Linked DNA regions of Homo sapiens. The protein of the gene in region 6 purifies or fractionates together with the protein of the main gene of each other region. This does not show direct contact. Each region holds a gene or a part of one and is shown on either strand. Other genes may lie near its edges. The genes, in order: VPS13D, PLXNC1, SHROOM3, GIT2, BOD1L1 and KLHL4.

The links.
Region 1: the proteins of KLHL4 (region 6) and VPS13D purify together in Homo sapiens (affinity purification with mass spectrometry, with the first as the bait; one large-scale study listed by BioGRID). This does not show direct contact.
Region 2: the proteins of KLHL4 (region 6) and PLXNC1 purify together in Homo sapiens (affinity purification with mass spectrometry, with the first as the bait; one large-scale study listed by BioGRID). This does not show direct contact.
Region 3: the proteins of KLHL4 (region 6) and SHROOM3 purify together in Homo sapiens (affinity purification with mass spectrometry, with the first as the bait; one large-scale study listed by BioGRID). This does not show direct contact.
Region 4: the proteins of KLHL4 (region 6) and GIT2 purify together in Homo sapiens (affinity purification with western blotting; one study listed by BioGRID). This does not show direct contact.
Region 5: the proteins of KLHL4 (region 6) and BOD1L1 purify together in Homo sapiens (affinity purification with mass spectrometry, with the first as the bait; one large-scale study listed by BioGRID). This does not show direct contact.

Annotation. Positions count from the first base shown.
Region 1 is NC_000001.11:12,233,003-12,236,534, reverse strand, and holds part of VPS13D (intermembrane lipid transfer protein VPS13D), read right to left. Parts: intron 2,345-3,532; 5' UTR 2,269-2,344; coding exon 2,172-2,268; intron 1-2,171. UniProt on the Homo sapiens protein: Mediates the transfer of lipids between membranes at organelle contact sites. Functions in promoting mitochondrial clearance by mitochondrial autophagy (mitophagy), also possibly by positively regulating mitochondrial fission.
Region 2 is NC_000012.12:94,242,575-94,246,106, reverse strand, and holds part of PLXNC1 (plexin-C1 precursor), read right to left. Parts: intron 2,170-3,532; coding exon 2,082-2,169; intron 1-2,081.
Region 3 is NC_000004.12:76,753,214-76,756,745, reverse strand, and holds part of SHROOM3 (protein Shroom3), read right to left. Parts: intron 2,436-3,532; coding exon 1,554-2,435; intron 1,224-1,553; exon of another isoform or gene 298-1,223; coding exon 1-297. UniProt on the Homo sapiens protein: Controls cell shape changes in the neuroepithelium during neural tube closure. Induces apical constriction in epithelial cells by promoting the apical accumulation of F-actin and myosin II, and probably by bundling stress fibers.
Region 4 is NC_000012.12:109,979,352-109,982,883, reverse strand, and holds part of GIT2 (ARF GTPase-activating protein GIT2), read left to right. Parts: intron 1-357; exon of another isoform or gene 358-813; intron 814-1,704; exon of another isoform or gene 1,705-1,837; coding exon 1,838-1,932; exon of another isoform or gene 1,933-1,979; intron 1,980-3,532. UniProt on the Homo sapiens protein: GTPase-activating protein for ADP ribosylation factor family members, including ARF1.
Region 5 is NC_000004.12:13,621,217-13,624,748, reverse strand, and holds part of BOD1L1 (biorientation of chromosomes in cell division protein 1-like 1), read left to right. Parts: intron 1-3,532. UniProt on the Homo sapiens protein: Component of the fork protection machinery required to protect stalled/damaged replication forks from uncontrolled DNA2-dependent resection.
Region 6 is NC_000023.11:87,516,626-87,520,622, reverse strand, and holds the start of KLHL4 (kelch-like protein 4), read right to left. Parts: upstream 2,822-3,997; 5' UTR 2,730-2,821; coding exon 2,308-2,729; intron 1-2,307.

The DNA.
Region 1 (3,532 bases), on a different chromosome or scaffold from region 6:
GTGGTGCATGCCTGTGGTCCCAGCTGCTTGGGAGGCTGAGGCAGGAGGACTGCTTGAGCACAGAAGGTCAAGGTGGCATTGAGGTGAAATCACGCCACTGCACTCCAGCCTGGGTGACAGAAAGAAACCCTGTCTCAAAAAAAAAGAAAGAACATTCTCATTCCTATCTAGTACCCTCTCTATTCCCAAACACTGCTTAACTGTGTCAGAGACGAACAAGCAGCACCAACTTCTTTACGAAGCCATTCCCTCAGTACAATTCCATGCCCCCAAGATTGTTCTGGCCACGCTCTGTGATGTGCTTTGGATCCATAAGCATTGGGTACCATACTAACACCAGTTACAAAAGAAAAAGCATTGTTCTACCCTGCGGAGAAGCATTCTTCAAGTTCCACAGGTTCATTAAAAGCCATAAAGAATAATGTTTTTAGAAAGGAAATAAGGGCAGAAAAGCAGTTTAAAGTACCAGATAAACACAGTTGTTACAAGATACATTCTAAAACTGCTGAGAAATGTTAGTACGACTCTGTAACACATCAGATATCCATTTCTATTTACTCATTTCTTTGGCAAATGCTCTTGCCACATGATTCCTGACAGAACCAGCTCTTTGATTAGCAGGGTCGTGGTCTGCAGCTCTCTTTCTAGGCCCTGTTATCTATACGTCATACAACGTAGTTAGCTTCACAGTGGGTCTGAGAACTTCAATAAGAGACCAGAGAGGTGAACTTGACACTACTATTGCACTTTGAATGCATCCTCTTCCCTGACAGACTGCTCACTCGCACTTTCCACTTAGCTCCCGTTTCAGGACAAGAGGAAAACCAGGAGAATAGGAAAGGAAAGGAAGAGAGTGGGGAGGCGTGACCATGACGGCTCTGCCCATGGCCTAGCGCTGCCACAATCATTTGGTCAGAAAAACATGAAAAGCAACACTTTTTTTTTATTTTTTATTTTTTGCGATGGAGTTTCACTCTTGTTGCCCAGGCTGGAGTGCAGTGGTGTGACCTCGGCTCACTGCAACCTCCGCCTTCTGGTTTCAAGCGATTCTCCTGCCTCAGCCTCCCGAGTAGTGGGATTACAGGCACCCGCCACCACACCCAGCTAATTTTTGTATTTTTAGTAGAGACAGGTTTCACCATGTTGGCCAGGCTGGTCTCAAACTCCTGACCTCGTGATCCGCCTGCCTTAGCTTCCCAAAGTACTGGGATTACAGGCATGAGCCACCGCGCCTGGCCGGAAAGCAACACATTTAATGGAACATGTGAACCACCGGTACTCTATTCTCAGACTACGCAAACAGCTGTGTCACTGTTCTCTCTAACCTGCTCTGGTCCACTTACCAAAACTCACATCCACAAAGGTGAGGTTTCACTGTATTTGAAGTCTCCTTCCCATTTCCTATGATTTTACACACGTGGCAAACTGACTTTCTTCTCTTCCCTACGTATGTTAAAAAGCTCCATTTTGAGCTGAGCAAAGAGAATTTAAATTAAAACAAGGAAAGGGAGAAAATGCAGTTTTCGAATTCCCATGCCAAATCAGGGACTGCATTTACCAAGTCTAGGCCTGTAAAGGGTAAAATGTCTGAAGCTTCAGGTACTCTACTACTAAGCAAGTCAAAACCTCAGAAATTCTGTTGAACACCTCACAATAATCAATTTTAAAACTTTTATTGAGTGCTTACTATATGCCAGCAGGCTAGGGGCTTTAAATGTTATTCCAGTTGATCCTTAAAGCAACCCTCTGGAGGTATATTATCTCTGTCTAAGAAACTGAGGCTTGGAATTTCAATATGAGCTATTGTTCACATAGCTAATAAGTGACAAAACAGTATTTGAAGCCAAAGTCAATGCCACTGTCGGTACATTGTGGCTGCCTCCATAAAGCTTCATAAAGCTAAAAGTTAACTGGGACTAAGCACAGTCACCAGTAGTGTAGCTTATTTTGTTTTTGTTTTTTAATATTTAATAGTTCCTTAAAATCTACAACAATATAGCTATAAACTTAAGTTACTCTGGAAAAATCATCAGGATGATATGGGACCTTTTTACATACATTTAGTACAAAGCCATCTGGGCATTAGGTTTTATGATTCTCAGGACAACAAAAAAAATACAAAAATAGAAACGCCACCTATAAAGCTGTATCTCACCCAGAGAAATACTCACCTTTGAGAAGTGCAACTGAGAGCTGGTCAGTGTTCAGGTTATTGACATATTTTCCCAAATAGGTATTGAGAACCCAGGCTACAAGGCCTTCCAACATGACTATATCCTCAGGAAAAGGTGTTTAGAAATCATGGATCATTCTTTATTTCTCTCTTTCATGGTCACAGAAAAATCTATGAAAGGAAAATAATGAAAATCAACATAAAAACAGGATGATTTTCTAAGCCAATTTCCTCCTCTACCTGCCTGAAGGTAGATGAATGCAAAGCACAGATGTTTTGTTGGGTTTTGTTTGTTTGTGTTTTTGTTTTTGTTTTGAGACAGTTTCGCTCTCGTCACCCAGGCTGGGGTGCAGTGGCACAATCTCGGCTCACTGCAATCTCTGCCTCCCGGGTTCAAGCGATTCTCCTGCCTCAGCCTCCCAAGTAGCTGGGATGACAGCTGCCCACCACCACACCCAGCTGATTTTTTGTATTTTTAGTAGAGATGGGGTTTCACCATGTTGACCAGCCTGTCCCAAACTCCTGACCTCAGGTGATCCACCCGCCTCAGCCACCCAAAGTGCTGGGATTACAGGCATGAGCCACTGCGCCCGGCTGCAGATGTTTTAAAAGATGAGGCAAGAAGCTCTGTAAGATGTCCCCATCAGTAACTGGAGGGCCAAACCAAAACACCTACATTCTGATGCTGCTTCAGGGAATAGTCACTCTTAAATTTACCAAAAATTACCTACAATTCAAAGCTGTCTATCTTTTCAGTGTAACTGTCCATTGCTTGCTTATGTTGATTTACCTTGGGATTAGACTGCCGTGATCAGAGGTTCTCCTATGGGCATAATTTAGTAATCTCTGGAGGCATTTTTTATCATGACTTAGGGGCTGCTACTGGCATCTTGTGAATAAAGACCACGGAAGCTGCTAAACCTACAACACACAAGACAGCTCCCACAGCAAAGAATTATCCAACCCAAATGTCAACAGAGCCAATGTTAAGAAACCTTATCCTAGATTAAGACAGAAAATGCCGTAAGAGATTGTCTGAATGAAATTCATGAAAGAGGCCGGGGGTGGTGGCTCACGCCTGGAGTCCCAGCACTTTGGGAGGCCGAGGCAGGTGGATCACCTGAGGTCAGGAGTCCAAACCCAGCCTGGCCAACATGGTGAAACCCTGTCTCTACCAAAAATACAAAACTTAGCCAGGCATGGTGGCAGGCACCTGTAATCCCAGCTACTCGGGAGGCTGAGGCAGGAGAATCCCTTGAACCCGGGAGGCAGAGGTTGCAGTGAGCCAAGATCACACCACCGCACTCCAGCCTGGGTGACAGAGTGAGACTCCATCTCAAAAAAAAAAAGAAAAAGAAA
Region 2 (3,532 bases), on a different chromosome or scaffold from region 6:
ACTCTCTTCTTTTCTCGTGGTTTCCCAGGACTCAAGACAGGACACCGAAGCCTTTTGGGTCAGAATCCTCCCCTTTCCCTAGTCTACTGCTTTCTGCATAGTCTCTTTTCCCATTGGTAACCTTCTGACTGCTTTCATTGTCACTAATTGTCTCGGTCCAGTGTGAGTCCAGTGTACCTAGACCTATGTCACTTCCTGCTCAGAGATCTTCAGTGGCTCCCTGCTGCCTACAGAATTAAGGGCAAAGTTTTCAGTCTGACGCTGCTTTTTGTGGCCCCAGCTCAGTTTTACAGCTATCGCTCTTGGTCATTCCAGACCCACCCTCTAGGTTCCCACTAAGCAGGATTGAGTGATGTTCCCAGCACGGGCCTGCGAGGACTCTGTCCTCTGTACCTGAACTCACCTCCCTGCTTCCACCCACCCCACTCCATACTGCAGGCGTACTTAATCCCATGCATGTTTAATTTCTCTTTAATGTGAAAAGAAATGGTGTCTTCTTGGACTCACAGGGTTTCTGAACAGTTAGGGAACCAGAGGACCTAGAACCTGATGATACTCTGTGCTGTCAACTTTTTTAATTTTTATTTTATAGAGATGGGGGTCTCACTATGTTGCCTAGGCTGGTCTCGAACTCCTGGCCTCAAGCAGTCTTCCCGCCTTGGCCTCCCAAAGTGCTGGGATTATAATCGTGAGCCACCACACCCAGCCTCAACTTTCAATCCCAATGTAGATTTGCTGCCTGCCTCCATGAAGGCAATATGACTATCTCACTTATCTTTTGTCCCTGCACCCAGCAAAATGTTTTGCCTGCAGTAGGTGCTCAAAAAATTCAACTTGATTTGGGAACAGCAAGTAGGAGGGAGAGCAAGTCCGTGACAAACTCAGGTAATGCCTCTGCTCAGAGGGTCAAACTATACGAGCCATTCAACTGGAGGTGTTCACACCATGGAGATGAGGCCTGGAGTCAGATACAGTGTGAGGCTTGGAAGTGGCTCTGAACTGTGTCAGCAGGTGAATGTGTGCACCACAAGGCTGTAAGGACGGCCTATCAGGCGGCCCCCGGAATTTGGGTCTGAACCCACACTGCTCCTGAGGAGGGAGTGTGTCAGCCTTGGCAGGAAGTGGTCAGGCAGGGCCCCAGAGAGGCAGCCACCTCACATATCTCATCAAGGAGAGGGAAAAAGGGGAAGAAAGAATGGGGAAGGATATTTAGAAGTGTGTGCAAGTACACTTGGAGGCCTGACTTGTATGTGAAATCCCTCATCTCCCCTCTTGGCATCAGAAGCTTCCATCTAGAGCAGCCGTGTCCAGCCTTTTGAATGTGAGGACTTTTTTGCTTATCTGTGGTGGTGGATATCACGGAAATTATGCACAAACCATTTTTTAGCTCATTAGCTATCGTTAGTGTTGGTGTATCTTATGTGTGGCCCAAGACAATTCTTCTTCCAATGTGGCCACAGGAAGCCAAAAGGTTGACACCCCTGCTCTAGAGGATCCCCATCTGGAGGCACCAGTGGGAGAATCGGGCAAAGGTGGAAACCAGACCCCTCCTACCATTTCTCCTGTGGGGAGACGAAAGGTAAGAGAAGGTGACATCAGATGGTAGGGAACAAATTGGGTCGAAGAGAAGGAGAAGCACATGACAAGATTTCTGGGACCTTGGCAAGTCATCTAACCTCTGTGAACCCAACTCTCTCTGTGCAATGGGAACAATACCACCTACTCTTCACAGAAATGCAATTCTTTATATCACACCTTAACCATTCACGGAGCATTTTCACACATATTCATAAGCATTGCCTCATTAGGGTGACTTGCCACAAATCACATAAAAAGAAAATGTCAGGTCTTATCGTACCAAGTTCATTTCTCTTTCCTCATTGCTGCAACTAGAAATACTCAGCTACAAGGATAAGGTCTTATTATTTCCATTCTAGCATGGATAGAATATATGATAGCATAGGTAAAAGTTTATAACACCAAAGTCACAGAAACAAAAAATACCCCCAACATAGCATAGTGTGATGAAAATAGAACCATCCTTGAAAACAACTATTATTACAAAGCAGCTGGAGACTTACATTTATGTTTCCTTTTAATTCATGTGAAATGATTAAGTTGTCAATTACATCAAAATTTCTGCCCATCATGGTTATATTTTGACCACCACTGCAAGGAATAAAAGCAACAATAAGGGTTTCATAGCTAACACACAGGCATTTTGCATTTATGAACAAAGCTATCAATTTATTCATGTTTAATATTAAACCCAATTATGTTTGAGAGCAAATTAATGAATTTTAATTTCAAATACAGGACAATTTTGGGAATCTTTTCAGGATACCAGCCACAAATTCATGGGTTTCAAGATGCATAAATATAAAAATTCAGGTCAGATCCTATTTTAATTCTAGGAAAATGCCCAGATTCTTTGATGGAATTTGAATTTTGTTTGTGTCATATCGCCACATATAATCAGATCAGGAGCTGTACCTTGAAAAGGTTTCACTAAACAGAATTTTGTTTGATTACTGTTTAATCTATATAAAGAGACTTCAATCTAAGAATTTTCAAAATCAAACTCCTAACCTACCAATGGTATGTTATTTAGAGAGACAGGAAACACTTTGGGCAAGGTAGAATTACAGATGACATGCAAAGTGTAAATTCCTATTTGGTACGCCGTATAAATAACAGCTGCATTCCATCTCTCTAAAACCAGGCCAAATAACTTCACGTTTCTCAGTGCATATAAGCAAAGCGGTCACTGGGTGTGAAAGAAACAGCTGTCCACAGCTCTGTCTGCCCTTGCACCCCTGTTCACGTAGGTCACCAGACACTCATTCTAGGGGACAAGAGCCTGGGTACGTCAGGTCCAACAGCCAGCTGAGCCCCTGATGACAAGACCAGGAGGTGGGCCTGAGCAACCCAATTTGTGTAGGGCAGAGAGAAGACACTGATCTCTGAATCCTCCAGCCACAATGGGGAAGGGCTGAGTTGGCCTCATGCCAGTCTGTAGCCATTACCAGAAAACCGAGCCAAGCGTGATCTCCCGATGGCCAGCATTTAGAGCCACATTCTTGCTCAAGGCACAGTGACCAAGGAGCAGCCAAGACACACAGGCTCAGAATGTCGCAGGTGACAGAACAGTAGGGAGCCTCTTACTTTATAGCAAAGCAGGATACTGCTGTGGCTCAGAGCCCAACCTCCTAGTACCAGCTGTCTGGGAGGCTGGGGTGAGTTGTTTGAACCCTTTTCCTCCCCCAGTTCCCTCATTTGCAAAAGGGACAAGCCATAGCAGATCTCATAAATTTGTTGTGAGGATTAACCTAGTCAATAGATGAACACACCAGGCACATGGGGCATGCCACATCAATGTCTCCTTTTATATGGAGAATGGAATTGGTCCTAGAGTGGGGGATGTCATGCTAGAGCCTTGGTTTTGAAATTTCAGTTCTCCTTATCTTACTATTATGGACTGAACTGTGTCCCCAAAAAATGTGTCCCCATAAAATGTATGTTGAAGCCCTAA
Region 3 (3,532 bases), on a different chromosome or scaffold from region 6:
TCTGTTCTGATGTCTTCTGAACTCTTCTGAGGATCAGGACTGACTTTCTTTTCTAAACCCTGAGTTCCACTGACTGGATCATGGCTGAGGCTTTGAGTCTGGATGGGTGCTGGCTGCCCACCAAGAGACCCAGCAAGTTGGGCGTGAACGCTCATGAAGGAGGGTGGTGTGGACTCAGCCTCTGAACCCTTGATAGAAGTTTGGAGTCTGGAAGCCAGTGTCTGACTACCTACCACATGGGCTGCACCAGGCATGTGCCTTTCCCTTGCAATTGTCACTTTAGAAAGTTTGTTGAAGCTGCCAGGGATATTTAAAAAAAAAAAAAAAAGAGAGAGAGAGAAAGAGAGAGTGATAAGAGAAGGGTGATGATAAGAGGGTGGAGAAAGACTGAGGGAGAAGCTTTCCACATCAGGGCTGTAGCTTTCCACATCTTCCACATGTTACTGACAGAGCTAATGTTAAAGAATATGGCTTCTGATTATAAGTGGGTCTCCTGATACTGAACCCCGAAACTAAAAACATTTACCTACCTAGTCACAGGTCATGCTAGACACACAAACATACATAGATATATACATAGGAGTAGGGTGAGATAGTCACATTTGAGATCAACCCCTTCTTTAGAAAACAACAGCACTCTAAAGGGGCTCCTGAGCCCAGCAGCTGGTCAGGAGGTTGTCATCTCCTGAGGAAGATGGACTAGGAATTCAGTTCTGGTGAATGTTGCTGTTAGATTCCAGAGATTTCTGAAAGGTCTAGGTTAACAGGGGTAGTGGTAGTAAGTCACTCTTGTGGTGTTTAAAGAAAGCCACTCAAAAGGTGCTGTCAGGCAATGTGTTTTTTTGGTGTTTTGAGAGATTACTTGTTCTAGGGACTATGTGTTGGGGAATGCTTCTTTCTCATTCTCCTAGCTTCCAAGAGGTTTTCCCTAAACATTACTGACCTTGAGCCCTACTCTTTATTCCTCCCTATGGACATGGAGTGATTTTGGAAAGAGAAGCTGAGCATTCACATCCCAGTCTCTCTTCTCTTTTGAGACTGAGGCTGCCTCAAGGCTGTATATATTAATATCTATGTGTATTTGTGTGTCTAACATGACCTTTGATGAGGTAGGTAAAGCTGTTTAACTTGGGGGTTCAGTATCAAGAGACCCACTTACAATCTGAAGCCATATTCTTTAATGTTAGCTCTGTCAGTAATAAAAGTGATGTTTTTGTCTTCTATATGCCCTCCTCTTTTGTCTTATTTCCTAACTGATTCAGAACTCATCCAGGGAGGAGGGATTTACTTGGACCGCCTAAGCCTATCCTGTCCCCAGAAGTGAAATGTGCCCCTTGGGTCCCAGCTTTCATTTCTGCCACCCTGACTCCTCAGTACCCAATGACACTGGTCCAACTACCTCCTGAGGCAAACAGATCAACAGTGTCCTGAGCTGAGCTGTATAGAAACATCTCCATGCCAGGGTTCTTCTGTGGCCAGCAGAAGGACCTGGGCCACCTGGGGCATGACACTCTCCTGTTAGTGGGGGAAAGCTGCCCAGTCTGCTCACTCACCTGGGGCGTGGCCCCTCGGGATCCTCACTGTCCAGCTGCGCCTCACATACAGTGTGGGGAGGAGGTGGAGGGAAGTCATCCATGCTATACACCGGGGTTTCCTGACTCGGTGGAGGAGGTGGGGGTGGGGGAAGAGGTTCAAATGTGGGGCTGGACGTGGCCTTGGGGTGCGGATCCCTCACAAACACTTCGTCTTCATAATCCTCATGAGGTGGCGGGGAGTCCCGCAGGACAGACTCAGATATTCGGAGGGAGATCCTCCCTGGAGTGCTCGGGGCCCCAAGAGGTGTGTCTGGGTCAGAAGTGCTGCATAAACTTGGAAGACTCTGCTGTTTTTGATAGTGCTTCAGGTTTGCAAAATCAGGGGCTGAGGATTCCTCAGGAAGGCTGTCCTCTCTGGCTGCGTGGGCCCACTTTGCTCGAGAAGGAGGTGGCCACTGAGGCAGCGAGACCCTCTTCCTCGTTCCCTCTTCTACCCCATGCTCTGGGCCATCGCCCTCACAGCCTCTTGGACCGGGAGGCTGGGTCAGGGTGTGACCATTGCTTCTGTGCATCATGGCAGGGGTGTAGGGCGGGAGAGGCTGTCGCCCTGTCTGACCGTCCTGTGAGCAGTAGCCAGAGGGAATGGCTGAAGGCAGAGGGGTGCCAATTGGGGTCAGGGGTGCAGCCCTGGTGTCTGTGACCAGCCCTTGCGTTCCTGCCAGTGGTGGCCTGGGGCAGGGTGTCCTACTGGCTTGCCTCTGATGGTCCAGGGTTCCAGGACATTCACTAGGAACGGAGGAATCACCAATGGCTTTGCAGCCTGAACCACCCCAACGAGGGGTGAGATGGTGGAAGAGCGGCAGCATCTCTTCTTGGCCTCTTTCTGAACAACTGAGTGACCTGGAACGGCACACAGACAGGAGGGTTACAGCTCTGAAGAAAGGGGCAAACATGCAGCCCAATGCTCCTTACATAGATGAGAAAAGCATTTAAGAGGAAGGAGGACCTCTTTTCCTTCCCCCAGAAACTGCACACTGTCTTCCCTGGCTGCTCACAGGAAGACCCAAGTTAAACCAGTACTAGGCAGGCATAAATTCCTACAGGAAAATGTCACATGGAATGACTGGGTTCACAAGGCATTTTCTTTTATTAACCCTCTCACCGCCCCCACATCCTGTACACACCATGCAACATAAGGCAGCTTTTGAGGACAGGCTTCAGGCTATAAAAACAAACAGTACATTTCTTCAGCCCCTTTTAGGACTACTTCAGGAAATAGCTCCCAGCTCTGGGGAAAAATAATGCTGCCTTCTTCTCTCCCAGTGCGATCCCCACGGGGGAGGTCTGTTTTGAAAGCATTTGCATGGGCTGCTGAATTTGAAGGTTTTATTTACAACTTTTGCTTACTCTCCTAGTGTTTTCATTTCATCTGATGAAAAATAAAAAGGAGGGGGAGAGTCTCACCTAAGGAGCTAATAAGCAGTTACCTCTGGAGAAAGAGGCTGGCAATAATAAGCAAATATAGTACATGGTGATTTAAACAACTGTACGCTAGACTCCGAGGAAAAACCCAACAATTCGCAAAACTTTTGTTATTGTGTTCTAAAGGAGAAAAATCCACAAAACAAAACAGAAAAAAGAGTCTGTGGCACTACCTGCTATGCAAGAGTTAATGTGAGGATAAAAAGCTCTCCAGCAAACCCACCGTGATTTGTACATTCCCTGTCTGCAGTTCCCTGACTGGCTATGTGAGTGGATCTGGAGTGCAGATGGCACATTTCATCTCACAGATCTGACTCCTCTGAGGGAGTGGTGACTCAGTCCCACATCAGAGCAATAACACAGGGCTTGCCACAAGATCATCCAAGTGCCAGGCAAACAGAATGCAGCATGTGGTGGAAGAAGATGGCAAAGAACCAAATTAGCTCTTCTCATGCCTTTATTTTTCCTTTATTATACATAGATGCAGATGATGGAATAAAGGGCCCACCTCTCTC
Region 4 (3,532 bases), on a different chromosome or scaffold from region 6:
ACTTGAGGCCAGAAGTTCGAGATCAGCCTGGCCAGCATGCTGAAACCCTGTCTCTACTAAAAATACAAAAAAAAAAATTGGCTGGGCATGGTGGCAGGCACCTGTAATCCCGCTACCCGGGAGGCTGAGGCAGGAGAATCACTTAAACCTGGGAGGCAGAGGTTGCTGTGAGCCGAGACCATGCCACTGCACTCCAATCTGGGTAACAGGGCAAGACTCTGTCTCAAAAAAAAAAAAAAAAAAAAGTGCTCACTGTAAAATTATTTAAATTTTTCTTTATTAATAAAGTCCTTGAAAAATAAATCTATAGGTTAGTCTTGAATATCATTTAAATGGCCAAAGATCAGTCATCTTTCCTTCTTTTTCCAAAGTACTTTTATTAACTGTGAAGCACAATACTCTGTTCCACAGAGGATAAAATGGGTGAATAACAAAACTCTGCCTTCCCAGAATTTACTCTCTTGGAAAAGATGATTCATAAATGCCTGAAAGAGTTCAAGGAGGCAAGACCATATGGGATTCATTGCCAAAATAGATAATTGGTCTTAAAAAGCATATATAGGGTTTCTTCATTGTGGTCCAAATCATTTAAGAAATTTCTTCAGCTGGTCTTGAAGAATGGGTTGGATTTGAATGTGTGAAGGGAGAGCTGAAGCATTCCAGGTAAGAGGAAAGGCAGGAGTCAAGATCAGGAGGCAGGGAGGGACAAAGTGTGTTCAGCACAGCAGGAGACCTGACTGGAAAGAACAGAGTGGGTCTGGGAATAACAGCAGGAGTACAGTATTGCATGGTGCTTCATTATTTCACAGAGCACTAAAAAAGAAAAGAGTTCAGCCAATTAAATTATGGTGTATCATCAATTGTAGGACATTTCCTGATTTCACAGATACTAAAAAATGAAAATAAGATGTGCCTCTCACAAATCAAAGCTGTGTGGTAGGTTGAAGGGTGTTGTGAGTGCCTTGAATGGTGGGGAGAGAAGCTGGCTGAAACTATCAGGTTGGTGCAAAAGTAATTGCAGTTTTTGCCATTACTTTTAAGGACAAAAACCACAAAATATACTTGATCTTGGACGAGAGCCCTGGGTAAATGATACTTATTATCACTTACCTTGGAATTTTCGCACTTGTACCTTGCATATAATAATCTCAATATAATTTGTATCCTTGTTGCTGAAAGGATTCTAAGCAGCCTAAGTATTTATTTCATGGATGTTGAAAGGTAAACTTAATATTTTCTGTTGTGCAAATTGAAGATAAGGAGGCAGAAGTAGCTGCAGGCGTGAGCTGTGCGTTAGGTTGGCGTGTCTCTCACTGATTTGAAGCCTTTGAAGTGGTTACTAGACTCTTATCCAGAGTCAGACTGGCTGCATCAGCATCACCTAGGGGAAGGACCTTCTTCAACATATTGGCCCCTGGCCCCATCCTGTCCCCATTGATTCAGAATTTCCAAGGGTGGGGCCTGCACATGGTATATTTCTAGAAATGCGCTAGTTAATTTTTGAGAACTTCTACCGTAAACCATTGATTAATTTCATTTTTTTACCTCATTAAATTAAGTCATTCTGTATCCTTCCCTCTCATAAGTCTTTGAATTTCTTATTAAATATTCTATTTTGGCCTTAATAAAGGAAAGGCGATAGTTCAGATGGTGAAAACAGTTTATAAAAGTGGGATGCAAAGTAGACTTCAGAAATCTACCTACCACAAGAAGGTTGATGATTCTCAAAAGTCTTGTGTGATAAACTGCTCAGGTGTCTCAGGAGACGTCTTTGTACTCCATTTTAAAGTCAGTGAATAGTGAGCAATATAAATGGTACTTTGTTTTCTCTTGGTAGGCAAGGAGGGCACCATGAGCTGGCAGAGCGCCTCGTGGAAATACAGTATGAGCTAACGGACAGACTAGCCTTCTATCTCTGTGGCAGGAAACCAGGTGAGTGGATGGAGAATGACCGTTTCACATCTCCAGTTGGGAAGGTTCTAGAAAAACAAGTTGGGACACTATTTGTTATTACCTCCTCTGCTGTAACATATCACTGAGAAAGCTATACATATGGCTTTTAATTTGAAAGGATAACTACAGAATTGTCAGTTACATGTAAAAGATATAAAGTTGGACAAAACTCCTTAGATTTTTCATTTTTAATAGCTCTAGAGAAATGACTATTTCAAGAATCAGACTGAATAATCAAAGCAAAATTGAATGGGTACCACAGTTCTTGAACATGGTGGGACTAGGAATGTAGGAGCAAAGCAATAACCTTTGTAGTTATTTGAAAAATTCTTCTTAAGGAATGGAAAAAAAGTCCAGAAGTAAACTTTGCCAAAGCCAACTTGGCTATTTGTGATAGGGAACAGGGGTCAGCAAACCATGGTTTGTAGCCCAAATCTAGCCAGTTACTTGTTTTATTAAACAAAGTTTTGTATCGTGCCACTGCACTTCAGCCTAGGTGACAGAGTCAGACTCTGTCTCAAAATAAATAAATAAAAATAAATAAATAAATAAATAAAGCTTCTGCCGGGTGCAACGGGTCATGTCTGTAATCCTAGCACTTTGGGAGGCCGAGGCAGAAAGACTGCTTGCACCTAGGAATTCGAAAGTAGCCTGGGCAAGAGGGGTGAGACTCCGTCTCCACAAAAAAGTTTTTTAAAAAATCAGCCAGGCATGGTGGTGTGCGCCTGTAGTCCCACGTACTTGGGAGACTGGGACTTGAGCCCAGGAATTCAGGGTGGCAGTGAGCTATGATTGTGCCACTGCACTCCAGCCTGGGTGCAGTGACAAAGCAAGACCCCCAACTCTCTAAAAAATAAATGAATAAAGTTTTATTGCAAGAAAGCCGCGCCCAATTATTTATACCTTGTGTATGGCTGCTTTCACATAACAACAGCAGAGTTGAATAGGTTAAGTCGTTGCAACAGGCCAGATGGCCACAAAGCCTAAAATATTTACTATTTGGCCCTTTAAAGAAAATATTGGCCAACCCCTGATGTACAACATTCACATACATGTATGCAGTGATTCTCCATCCTGGTTGTATGATAGAGTTAAGAGCCTCTGGTATAGTTTCAGTTCTGGGTGAGATGGAGTAAGCACACCCCACCGTGTCTCCTGCAAAATAGAACTAACAGACCTGGACCAAATGCTTGGAGTAGCTAGCTAAAGACTCTGAAAAGTAAATCCTGGTTGGTAGATTAGGGAACTCAAAAGTGTCATCAGCTGGTGGTGAGTGTCCTGTTTGTCTTACTTCTGATAGGACTTCAATGACAGCCTGAAACCTGGAGGTACATAATGAGTGCAAAAAAGCCTTTTTCTGCGGGGTGCGGTGGCTCACGCCTGTAATCCCAGCACTTTGGGAGGCTGAGGTGGGCGGATCATGAGGTCAGGAGATCCAGATCATCCTGGCCAACATGGTGAAACCCTGTCTCTACTAAAAATACAAAAAAATTAGCTGGGCATGGTGGCAGGCGCCTATAGTCCCAGCTACTCGGGAGGCTGAGGCAGAATTGCTTGAACCCAGGAGGCAGAGGTTGCA
Region 5 (3,532 bases), on a different chromosome or scaffold from region 6:
GTTTAAACCAGGATGAGAAGTACCAAAGTCTGCTGCTACACCAGAAGACCACAGAACCCTGGTCTTCTGGGAGGCCGAGGTGGGTGGATCATTAGAGGTCAGGAGTTCGAGGCCAACCTGACCAAAATGGTGAAACCCCATCTCTAGTAAAAATACAAAAAAAGTAGCCATGTATGGTGGCACATGCCTGTAGTCCCAGCTACTCGGGAGGCTGAGGCAGGAGAATTGCTTGAAGCCAGGAGACAGAGGTTGCAGTTAGCCGAGATTGTGCCAGTGCACTCCAGCCTGGGAGACAGAACAAGACTTGGTCTAAAAAACAAAAATTTTTAAAAAGCAACAATACACATTTTTCAATACAGTTGCATATACTATTTAATAATTATGAAAATTTCTAATATTTCTGTTGCTTTGAGAAATTAGAACTGAAATGACACCCTCCCAGACAAAAAAGAACACTCAGCTATGGTTGAAGTTCTGGTGCTCAGACGCTAGCTTAAACTCTCCCACAAAATCTCTCTCTCTCTCCCCCTCCCTGCCACTAACCTCTGTACCTGCTCCTGGTTATGTTACAGGTTATGTTCTGGTACTTCCTTTACCCCATGACTCTCTCCTTCTCTTCTACTCCCTTAGTTAGCAATTAGGTAGATTTTAATTTGATTTAAAAGATTTGTTCTCATTGAATACCATTTTATACTTCATTTTCTTATTTGAAAAAAAAAAAAATATATTCCCCCCTGCTTCCCAAAAAGCCAAAGTTTTCTTCATCAGAACATAACATTCATATCAATATGATGAGTGGGCCAAAGTAGAAGATTCCCTGTTCATGCAAAGAACCATCACTTTAATGGAATCCTTGAGTTTCATCTGCCACTTGAACCTCAAAGACTGACCTGCTTTCTGTCAAAAAGTCTTAACTTGTAGCATATAGAGTTATAGTGGATTATGTCTGTCACATGCATATTTAAGAATGAAGACATTTGATACCTGCCAGGTGCTAAGAGCAAAACTGTCATCCAGTTTAGTGTGTTTAAACCAGGATGAGAAGTACCAAAGTCTGCTGCTACACCAGAAGACCATAGAACCCCCCTCCAAACTGTCCAGGGTCATTGATAGTCCTTAACCAGGAGAGAGATCTGACTGTAACAGACCAAATCAGCCCTTCCCACCCAAAGAAATGGAACCATGGGCAACCCTAAGCTCCAACTACTGCAAAGACTCCTCCGTTATAGACTACCAGTTTCCAGATCTCTGGAGCAAGCTTAGTGGTTACAAAGCCATTCTGTCTCCTTTGCACTGATTAGCATCTGGAGCGTGTGAGGAGGGATGATCAAGAGGCCCTTCAGGGAGCTCGCCAGCCAGGTAAATATGGTACCTCTCTTGTCAAGTAAGAAAGTCTGATTTTTTGGACACTTTCTTAGTTATAAATGGCCCCTGGTCAATTTATTCACCCAACAAACATTCATTGAGCAACTCTTATGTACCAGTCATTTTTTTAGGTGCCAGGGATACAGCAGTGAACCAAACATCCCACTGTTATGGAGCTTACATCCTAGTAGAAAAAAAAAATAGACAACAAGTAATGTATGGTAGGTCCTATGGAAAAAAGCAAGATGAGGGATGGATGGGCTTACTGTTTTATTTCGAATAAGCTGTTCAGGGTAGGTTTCAATGTGATGATACTTGAGCCATCTGTGAAGGAATTGAAGGGGCAATGCAGCTGTCTGGGGCTTGAGCATTCCAAGAAGAGAGCATAGCAAGTATAGAAGAGCTGAGACAGACCCACTAAGGGGAAAGTGACAAGAGGTGAGGTAGGTATGCCTTCACAGATCTGGCAGGTCTTGGGAGCCATCAGAAGACCTTGGCTTTTACTCGAGCTCAGAAGCCATTGGCAGGTTTTGAGCAAAAGAAGGACATGATCTGACTTCCATTTCAGATGGGTTGACCACGTGTAATAGCTTCCCCTTTCTTGCTAAGTTGTGATTTGAATGGGTCAATAAATTACATGGTTACCTGATTTTTAGAAGACAACTTTGTTGTAGGTAAGGATAGAATTCTGCATGAGGCCAGTTGTTATAATTCAGACAGATGAGAATGCCTTGGAACAGATTGAGGTCAGTAAAGGTAGTGGGAAGTGGTCAGATTCTGGGTGTATTTTCATGCTACTGTTGAGAGAATTTGCTAATAGTATGCATGTGAAGTAGAAGACAAAGGGAGGACTCAAGGATAACTCTAAGGCTTTTCACCAAAGCACTGGAAAAGGAAGAAAGGGTGGAAGTATGTGTAATATATGTGTGTGTGTATATATGTGTACATGTGGGTACATACATGTTCCTAGGAGAATACTTCTCAATGAATACTTAATATTTCTCTAGTTGCTCAACTTTTTACTGAAAGGAGAGCTTGAAAACAAGGAAAATTACCTGTTGAGTAGTTCAGATTTGAACTTGTTCTGGGAAGACTAGACTAGAATGCCAAATGCATTGTGATGTTAGAGCCTAATGAATGTGTGTTAGATTTGGGAATACCGGAAAGAAGAATTAGGCTTTAGAATCATTGGGGAGAAAGAATTAAGAATTAGTTTTAGGGCTGGGTATGGTGGCTGACACCTGTAATCCCAGCACTTTGGGAGGCCGAGAAAGGTGGATCACTTGAGGTTAGGAGTTCAAGACCAACATGGCCAATATAGCAAGACCTTGTCTCCACTAAAAATACAAAAATTAGCCAGGTGTGGTGGCGCATGCCTGTAGTCCCAGCTACTCAGGAGCCTGAGGCACTAGAATCACTGGAACCCGGCAGGTGGAGGTTCCAGTGAGCCGAGATCACACCACTGTACTCTAGCATGGGCAATCGAGCAAGACTCTGCCAAAAAAAAAAAAAAAAAAGAATTAATTTTAGTTCATATCGATTTTGGATAAATGGACAGGCACATAGGAAATGATCATGTAGGACAGGAAATAAGTATCAGCAAAGGCCTGAAAATTGGAACTGATGAAAGGGCATCAGAGGGATAAAATGTTTGTCATTCTGTGTTAGAGATAGTTACCCATTCAGCTAACAAGTATATTTTAATTGCTCATTTGCCAAGCAGTGTGATAGGCTATATGAAAACAAATTGTAAGAGAGATAGAGGAGGAGGCTTACACATCAATGGAGGATAAATATGCCTTGCTTCCGAAAATACAATGTAGTGCAAGAATTGCTCGAATGGTAGCATGTATAGAAAACAGTAGGAGCGTGGATGAAGAGCCCATAAGCCTACCTTCGGTGTCAAGATGATTTCACAGATTAGGGTGAGCTCTGAAGGTGAGAAGTTTGTCAGATGGACAACCAGAGGGAATGGTAGTTGCAGGATGGTAGGTGCAGATATGAGAATTTCTCACTGGAGTGTAAACTTTGAAGCTAAAAGGAGGCAAATGGCAGAAGGTGAGGCTATACAGTGCTTGCTTAATATCAGTCAGGGACACTCAAACTCATCCACATTAAAAGCTGTATAGAAGAAAGGTAGAAAGAACATCAGTGTTGGGAGACAGCC
Region 6 (3,997 bases):
TTTATAATTCAATTTCATATGAATACATTTGAATTTTTAACTTTCCAAACCAACATGTCAACATAACTTTAACAATGTTGGCTTTAATATCCCTTCCAGGACTAACTGTGATTTATTCTGCTATATTGTATGTTTGCAATTTAGTCCATTCTCTATTTATTCCCCATAATATTTGTAGAAATCTGGATGGCTTAAAGAGCCTTACTTTACTCTGAGCGTCATAGCTCATCTTGTGCTAGTATGATAATTCTCCACACTCACTACTGTTTTCTTTTTTAAAAAACCACTGGAGTCATATTGAGGGGATGGCAGCCTGCTGCCAACTTGTTGGGATCTTTTCTTCCTGCTCCTCAATATTGCTCAAGAAGAGAGGCACTGGAGAAGCAAGGCATCAGAAAGCTCCTTCTCAAATGATGCTGGACCAAGACAGGAAGATTTAGAATGGTTAAGGAGAAGGTAATAAACCATCGTATTTCAATTAATAAGATCTTCAATTTAGCCCCTCCTGCCTAAGATATCCTTGGCACACCTATAAAACCATTTCCTGTATGTATATTAAGAAAACGTTAGCTTTCCAATGAAACCATAGAATAATTAACAAGGCATTTCTTTAGAAAATAAAAAATGTCAGGAATAAAATCAAAGGATAAATGCGCTTTTTAAACTGTCACTTGATGACGCTTTAAATGTGACATTTTACCTAACATTTTTTCTAACATCTATTTTATTGTAAATATTCCCATACTAGAAAATTAATTCATGTATTCTCAAATAATTTTGTTCCAAAGTTACAGTTGGTAATTTAAATTTCCCTACAGCAGAGTTAAATTCATTTATTAATCTCCAAATTCAGCAGTTTTTTAAAAATTGTTCTTGGTGACGAGAACAAATTTGAAAGCCTGCTGAATTTAAAATTATGGACTCTATATTACTTTGAGAGTCTTATTTGTTGTACCAAATGCAACCTGCAATCCCTACAGTTATATAGCTTTTCCACGAGCAAGCACAAAATATTTAGGAAAATTTCACACATACGTGCTTTATTTCCTGAGAAGTTTATATGACAGACAATCTAACATTATTATTAATGTCATTTCACAAAGTCTTCTGCATGTTTATATTTCAACAAGACTGAGTTCCTATAAAGGCATCATTTTGCTGTAATGTTATTAGGCTGCTTCTTCTTCTGATAAACTGTTTTGAATTTATGAAAGCAAGACACTGTGAGGTTGTTTTATTGGGAAAACTTATATTAAGAAGCAAATCTGCCAGTCCTTCTTCTCTATTTTTAGGTAGAGACATAGTATGCCAGATATCCAGGTTTCCAAATAAATTAGCATGTTGAACTACTATATGATCTAAAATGCATAAAAACACTTATTTTTCTATAGTACTACTGAATATTAATTACATTGCCAATATTATCAACTGTGTCTAAAACACGTTGGGACTATAAAAATGTCTGATAGTGAAAAAGCAAAAAACAAAGAGATAAGGATACACTAGGTTAAGTTATAGTTGACAGTATTAGAGAACAGAATGTAATTTTCTTGCACTCAAACAATACCGGTGGGCATAAAAGTAAAGACAAAATCAAATGTTTTATGAACTATACCCAAACTACACTATATCGTCACTGTTTATTCAATTTTCATTTTATGTAAAAGCTGAAATGCTCCATTTCCCGCTTTAAGATCACATTGCTGTAAGTAGCATCTTATTACCTGCTTTATGTAGAATATTTTCATGCTTGCAAAAACTAGCTATGAAAGTAATACAACTTGAAATGAGTCTCCGAACGCCAAATATTCCATATTGTCACATAAAGATAACACAGTTTTAAGAGTCAATATCGCAACTATGTACTAAGGAAACAGATAAGGATGTGCTGATCAGTCACAGCTTTTATTTTGTTAAAGTTGGCCTAACTCACAATGTCAGAAAGAGTTCTCCGTGATTCATAACACTTGCACAAAGAATTGCATTTAAACATCTGAGCCACGGAGTGTATTTATAGAACATTAGTAATTACAATAAACATCTCTTAGAATTGAAACAGAATTCTTAATGAAAATAGGAGAAGTAAACTCATAACCCACCCCCCAAATTTCCGGTAATTATAAAGACGTATTCATTATTGCTGTTTTCTTTTATAAACTTAGAGGAGACGGTTTCTGAGAGACTCTGATTGGCTGAATACAAACTCAGAGATTATTATGACACTTTCTATTTAAACACTAAACATGAATTGTAGAGGATAAGTTAACTGAAGTTACGGCATTCAGTTATGCGACCAAAAACTCTTACCTTGCTGTAGAATCTTCTATATTGTCATCAGCCATCATCTCCAAATCTTGTGCGCGTTTCTCACAAGCTTCTTTGAATAAATTCTTCTCTGGAACTGATTTAGGAGTATCTTCATTTGCTTGAAAATGTACTATCAGATTATGTTGCTGCAAATTCTGAACGGCTCTCTGATGGGCAGGGGCCGGTCCTGGCACTGGTGCCAGTATATTGTGGTGGACAGGACTGTTGCTTTTCTTCAGTCCGTTTCTGTCCCGAGAGTGGCTCTTCAACCTGCCCTGAACCGGGGTCCCTCTATGCTCATATCCTTCCTGCTGAAGACAGCTTCCAGTGTTGGTGGAACCTTGAAAAGGATGACTAAACCACCTCCAGCGTAGCCTTAGGATCTGTTTCACATCAAACTCTTTCTTGCCAGACACTGACATCGTAGCAGGAGGAAAGACAAAAGCCTTCTCTCACAGAAAGGAAACGGAGCCTTTGTTATCTCTTGTTTTTCTGCCTCTTCTGTAGAACTAACAAAAGCACAAGTGCCGAGAGCAGTCTTTCTTGCTTTCTCTCCCCTCCCCCACTGCCTATGATACACTGTGAATACTTGTAGCCTTCTAGCAGAAGCAGAAGGCTGCAGCTAACAGTGTAGGTGGGAACCCATGCTGACAGGATGATGAGGTCAGACCTTAAACAAGTAAATCAGCTTACCACAGGAAAGCAGCCACCACAACACTCTCCAGCTGTTAGATTTGCAGGCTTGCAGCCCTCCTGCTTGGACTTGCAAATATCTAGCCCTGCTTCTTCAGTATCAAAGTACAGTAGCTGCAGCTGAAACCCAGGCAAGTGAGCCAAAGCGAAGTGTTTAAACTTATTTTCTTCTAGATTCCTTCTACTCACGCCTCCCCTGCTAGATTCATTTCTCAGTAGCCCACTTCTAAAAATGTGCCACTTTGTTCCATGATAATATGCGACAGAGGAATTCATTATAATCTATTTTGAGATTCCTTTTATGGAAACTTTGAAAATGGTTCATTAAGGGAAAGCATCAGTACCCTCATGCGGGTTCGTAATTAGTTTTTACAAAATTAATCTGAAAATGTGAAAGTCTCTATATGAATATTTACCTGAAAACTTGACAGATTTTAGAAACATGTAAGAAAGTATTGGTTACCCATGACCACTCACACAAACACGCCATTTGGGAATGTAGAAATGGTATTTTTAGTCTACATATGGAGGAAGAAAGCAGTGCTTTTCCAAGCTAGTTAGGTTAAAAGAGATGTCTTCTCTCAGTTACCACAGCTTGAAAATGAATAGTTCATTCTGGCTCCATGCCTGGATACAAACCTTCTTATCATGCCTTTTACTTTCACAGGCAGTGTTAAAGGTTTATTTTCTTTGTTCAAAAACCCTTATGAGAGGATGAACAGAGTATGTTTTGAATTAATTCCAAATCATCACACTGTTCAGGAATAACTGTGCCCAAAGTACTTTGAGATCTGAATCATAATCACTACTTTGTACAGATGGACATGTTTACAAAAGACAGTCATGTATCAAGAATGCATTTATCATTGACATTTTGAAATTCAGTTTGTACTTTATCCAGTTCTCATATCATGCATACAGGTGATAAAGGGGAAATTATACTGGTGTATGACTAGAAAGAACACTGAAGTTGTAAGATTTTGCTTTTAGTTTGACT